2 separate regions of the Homo sapiens genome follow, and region 2 is linked to region 1. Evidence: fine-mapped expression QTL. A gene starts in region 1. The other region holds a variant in brackets. All regions are shown on one strand. Distances are from middle to middle. Region 1 holds the start of GPR45 (G protein-coupled receptor 45). Region 2 has its middle 37 kb from the start of LINC01918.

What was found. PIP is the estimated chance that this variant, and not a neighbour inherited with it, causes the effect.
Region 2: its variant is the best candidate, but not a certain one, in a credible set for the expression of GPR45 in testis (GTEx, PIP 0.67).

The regions. Positions count from the first base shown.
Region 1 is chr2:105,240,441-105,243,352 of GRCh38, reverse strand. It overlaps GPR45 (G protein-coupled receptor 45), which reads right to left and starts at 1,610. Exons shown (of 1, transcript NM_007227.3): 1 at 1-1,610. The coding sequence starts at 1,494. The coding sequence ends at 376.
Region 2 is chr2:105,179,888-105,182,799 of GRCh38, reverse strand. No RefSeq gene overlaps it. Among named protein-coding and RNA genes, the nearest start is that of LINC01918, 37 kb to the right of the region's middle. The variant T/C (reference allele first, on the strand shown) is at 1,467.

The DNA.
Region 1 (2,912 bases):
CTCGCAGGGCAGGTTGAAGCTCTTGTGACTGACCAGTCCTCCTGCCCCACACTCAACCAGCTTCATTCCCTGTTGCCCTCCTCCTCCCTTTCTGCCCAACTTCTGCACTCCCCAGCCCACTCCATTTTTGACTTAATGACGTTGCAGTTCCCATCAGCCCCATATTTGGCTCTCTGCAAAGAGAAACAAAAATAATTCATCGTGCCAAAATTTGAAATTTGGGAGCTGCAGCTCATCTGATTACAAATGAGTACCTTTGTGCTTAAATTGCCACCACAAAGTGCAGACTATGACCAACATGCCAGGGAACAGAGCAGGACAGATCCACCCTGGGACTGGGGCTCAGCTGCCCCTTCTCTGTGGCCCCCTGACCCCCTAAACCGCAGACTGGTTTTCATTGCACACGTAGACTGTGCTTGGCTGGATTCTCCTTCGGATCCGCTCAGGCACTTTGGGGAGGATTTGGAAGGTCTGGGGCAGCAACTCTATGCAGGCCTCGCGGAATTTTTTGATTCTCCAGCAGTAGACGATGGGGTTGAAGACGGACTTGAGGTAACTGAGCCACAGGACGCAGGTGCTGGTGGCGTAGAAGGAGGAACCGCAGTAAAAGCGCTGGCTAAACACAGACAGGAGGCTGTAGACGGAGTGGGGCAGCCAGCAGAGGGAGAAGCCCACGAAGAGGATCAGGATGGTGGTGAAGGCCTTGGTCTTGAAGCTCAAGTCCACGCTGACCTGTTGCTGCCGCTGCAGGCGCCGCAGGCCCGCCCTGGTGAGCTGCCGCAGGTCCAGGCTGTCCGACTGGTTGTGCACGCGCACGGCGTTCTTGCGGACCGTGTTGAGGATGCACATGTAGGCGCACAGCATGACGCCAAAGGGCGCGAAGAACACGGCCACCACCAAGGTGACCACGTAGGCGCGGTCAGCGGGGAGCTCCGTGTAGCCCAGCACGCACTGTGGGGCCCGCGCCGGCACCTCCACCAGCGTCCAGCCCGTGAGCGAGGGCCCCGCGATGCAGAAGGACAGCACCCAGGAGACCGCGATGATCACCTTGGCCCTGCGCGGGTTCAGCTTGTCCTGGCGCTGGACGATGATGAGGAAGCGGTCCACGCTGATGATGAGCAGGATGGCCACGCCCTCCAGGACAAAAAACCAGTAGAGCGTGGCTGAGAGGCGGCAGAAGTGGTCCCCAAAGTGCCAGCGCACGGTGATGAGGGTGACGGCGGTGAAGGGCATGCAGCAGAGGGACAGCATGATGTCGGAGAAGGCCAGGGTGGCCAGCAGCAGGTTGATGGCCGAGCGCATAGCCGGCCTCTGGTACACGATGATGCAGACCACAGTGTTGCCCAGGAACCCCACCACGGTCATCAGCAGCATCACTATGGCCAAGGAGATCCTGAGGGGTGCGGGCAACTGGGTGGACCCCGAGTCTGAGGCGTTGCTGGTGTTCAGCAGCAGGTATGTGTAAGCCTCAAGGGACGTGCTGTTGCAGGCCATCGTGGAGAGACCCTTGGAGCTGGGACAGAAATGGCCGGGAGGGCTCCCCTCAGCACTTGGGTGGCTGCCATTCTTTGTCTGCTGGCTGCATCTTCCTGGATGTCTGTGGACCTCTGGGGCACTGGAATGGTCTTGGGGAGAAATGTCCGTCTTTGTGAGCACTAGCTGGGATTTGCGATTCATGGATCACATCCTAAGCATCTCTGTGGAGAGCGACTCTGTGCACAGCTTCGTGCTTGGACCCTCTGTAGTGGACAGCAAGCAAAAGTACAAAAGAGAAGGGGGTTAGAGTTTCCAAACGCGTTGAAGAAAGCACGCGTTTAAGCTTTACAGGTGTTTCTAAACAAGTTTATTTACCACGTGGGACAAAGCTTGATATTCACAAATACTGTCTGAGTCTTGTCAAGCAGCCCAGAAAAACCTAATCAGCTATCTTCTGAGGAAACTGAGGAAGTACACTTTGTAGTTAGTGTTTATGTAATAACTTGAGTTTTCAGCAACCTGTCGGAATGAAGCCTTGGTCTAGCCAACTAACGTTAGAATCCTGCTCCACAAGAGAAAGGTTTTGCTTGTTTCATTCTCTGCTATCTCCCAGTACTGACAACAGTGGCTGGCATGCAGTAAGTGTCCTTGTTGAGGACACTTGGATGCTTGTTGAGTAGATGAATAAGTGATAGTTGATGCTGCTGCTATAATATTTGTTTAGCTTTAAAAAACCCCACTTCATCGAGGAATGACTGACATGTCAAAAGCTGTACAAATTTACATCTCAATATACCAGAAACCCATCACCACCAAGGCCAAAAACATATCCCACTCCCCCTGCCAAAGCTCTCTCCTGCCATTTTTCTAGTATTATCATTTTGTTTTGGTGGTAAGAATACTTCACCTAAGATCTGCCCTCTTAGCAAATTTTAAGTATACATTTTTAAGTTTTAATTTTTTAAAAGAAATTGTAAGTCTGTTTGTTTAACTTTATTTGATAAGTGTAAATTCACATGGATAAGTGTAAATTCACATGGAGTTATAATAATAAATACTATGGTGAAATTCTGTGTGTCCTTCACCCAGTTTTCCCTAATGGTAACATCTTGGATAACTGTGGGGCTGCTATACTATTACTTCTGGAAGCACAGACTGGGAGAAGGGAACTTTCCCCAAAGGTAAGGCCTTTTAAAATACAATGTTAGCTGGGTGCAGTGGCTCATGCCTATAATCCCAGCACTTTGAGAGGCAGAGACAGGAGGATTGCTTGAGGCCAGGAGTTCAAGACCTGCCTGGGCAACATAGAGAGATCCCATCTCTACACACACAAAAAAATGAGCCAGGCTTCCATCTATAGTCCCTGCTACTCAGGAGGCCGAGGCAGGAGGATTGCTCAAGCACAGAAGTTCGAGGCTGTCGTGAGCTAAGAAGGT
Region 2 (2,912 bases), 61 kb after region 1:
GGTTCCTCAAAAAACTAAAAATAGAGCTACCATATGATCCAACAATCCCACTGCTGGATATATACCCACAAGAAAGGAAATCAGTGCATCAAAGAGAGATCTGCACTCCCATGTTTTATTGCAGCACTGTTCACAATAGCCAAGATTTGGAAGCAACCTAAACGTCCATCAACAGATGAATGGATAAAGGTAGTACATATACACAATGGAGTGCTACTCAGCCAGAAAAAAGAAGAGATCGAGTCATTTGCACCACATGGATGGAATGGAGGCCATTATGTTAAGTGAAATAAGCCAGGCACAGAAAGGCTAACGTCGCATGTTCTCACTTATTATGTAAGAGCTAAAAATTAAAACAATCGAACTCATAGAGATAGAGAGTAGAAGGACGGTTATCAGAGGCTGGGAAGGGTAGTGGGAGGTAGCGAGGAGGTGTGAATGGTTAATGGATACAAAAATATAGTTAGAAAAATGAATAAGACCTAGTATTTGATAGCATGACAGGGTAACTATAGTCAATGATAATTTAGTTGTACATTCTAAAATAATTAAAAGAGTATAAATTTGATTGTTTGTAAGACAAAGGTTAAGTACATAAGTGGATGGATACCCCATTCACTCTGATGTGATTATTACACATTGCATACCTGTATCAAAACATCTCATGCAGCTCATAAATATATACACCTACTATATACCCACAAAAATAAATATTTAAAACAGAATAGCTTCTCTAATCTTTACAAGGCAGATGGCATTAGCCCATTCTACAGACTCTCAGAGAGGTTTGCTGGCGACCTGCCAATGGTCCCAGAGAGGGGAAGCAGCAGGACAGGATGTAGCTGAGGTCTCACTGGCCCTAAGGCGTATGCTCTTTCAGTGACATTAAACTGTATCTCAAGACAGAAAATGTTTCCGTTATTTTAATAATCGCATGCCCAATGTTTCAATGACAGTATCCGCATTGCTCACAGTAGCCCTGTGTAGAAGGCATTGCTACCTCCATTTCACAGATAAGGAAACTGAGGCTCCCAAAATCACACAGCTAATACATGTCAGAGCCAGGGTTATTGGTCTCCAAATCCCATGCTTGGTCCACACGGCAGGCAGGCTGTGGCAGAGCCCTCTGCCTTAATTCTATCTTTTTAAAAACACCATCTCCACCTCTGCCATTCATTCGTATCTTTCCTCTCCAGTAGACTGTCATGCAGCGTTCCACCCCTCCTCTTCCTCCCCTGGACGTCTCATCCCACATGCCTGGGTTCTGGAGTCAACACTGGGCTAGTGATGGGGAAATTGTTTTCACCAGGAAATCAGGATGAGCAGCTGAAGTCTTCGAGGAAACGCAGTGAAAACAGGAAGCAGCTTCTGTCAGAGGCCAGCTCCTGGCCGAGGAGCCAGGGTGGATGCTTTTCTGTGGGGGTGACCACAGTGCAGAATCCCTGGGGTTTCTATGGAGACACCTC[T/C]GTGGATTTCTCTGTCTCACTCACCTGTGGCAGAGCTCAGGACACCAGCTTTGAAGTAGGCAGAGGCTCCTCATAAAGGGAGGGGAGTTGGTGGCCCCATCTTCCCTCTGAGTCATGACAAAACCTACCCTGGGCTCTGTCAAAACAGGATTCCTAACAAGGTGCCCCTTGCTAGGAGAGGGAGTAAAATAGAGGCAAGCCCTACATTTTGCCAGTGGAATTTTCCAGAAGTGGCATTGTAAAGCAGATTATCCTGAAGCTCATTTTCTTTTCCATGGCAATAACACTATTAATGTCGTGATTCTGACCTGAGAACCTCAGAGAAGCCGTGGATATGGCTGGCTTGGCCAACAGGCTGCCTGCTCAACAGGAGTCTCTCTTCCTGCTGCCAACAGAGCTCAGCTTTGGTCCGGACACACCCGGACATCCAGGCAGGTGGGCAGGCCCCAGTTCTGGCCATTGTGATGTAAGGGGAGCCAGCCGGGGTGCTCTTCGGAAGGATTTTTGCTCCTGTATGAAGCACAATAGTGTAGGAGGGGGCCCAGCCATTTGGCACCTAGGAAGCCACACAAGGCTGAAAACCAGCGGCAGCTGCACTGCGGAGCCGGCAGCCCTGAATCGAGAGCCTTTGCTTCCCTTTGTTGACCAGGCATCTTTATTGCTAAAGCCACCATTCACTCAGTTTTCTCTTCCTTGAAGCCCAACTTAACAGGCAGGCCAACACCCAGCTGTAAAAGCAGACAGCCCTTTCTCTGGCCTCGGTGAGTGCTGCTCTAGTTAGTGATGCCACGGATGAAAGGATCCTGAAGGGGCCTCTGCGCTGTCCAGCCCAACACCCTCCTTCAACATGGAAGGAAGCTGAGTTCAGGGAGGCAGAATGCCTTGCCCAGCAGAAGAACCAGGAATAAGAACTACACTTCCAAGATTTGGAGAGCTGGGAGGACCTACACCCAATCCTGCAGCCGGCCGCATTGGTCTTGTGCTTTAGCCAACCCCACCAGAGCCCGTAGGGACAAGGCAGCCTCTAGGGGCCCCTCCTCTGGCTGCCTCATGCCTGCCTGCCATCCGGCCCCTCCAGTCCTGGAGGGACTGTAATGAGTTAACTGTCTCCAGGGTGGTGGGAACCACTTGGGTTACTGCATATATTTCGGAAGATGCAAATTCAAAGCTCAGGAGAAAAGGACTAATTTTTCCTATGGCAGAATTTCAGAACGCTTGTTTAGAATCCCTCCCCCACACTCCTAAAGCACACTTCGTCGGGCCCTGCTATTCTGTCCCCCATACATCAAGGGGTGGCTTCTCAAGCTAGGACGTTTTCTGCTTGGACTTAGAGAAGATGGGACCCATTTCATGCTTTTCCAGCACAGACTTGCAGCTGTTTCACCACTTGGAGGAGCTCAAGAGACTCAGCAACCTGGGTTCTCTTCCCACTTTGGTCACTCAAAG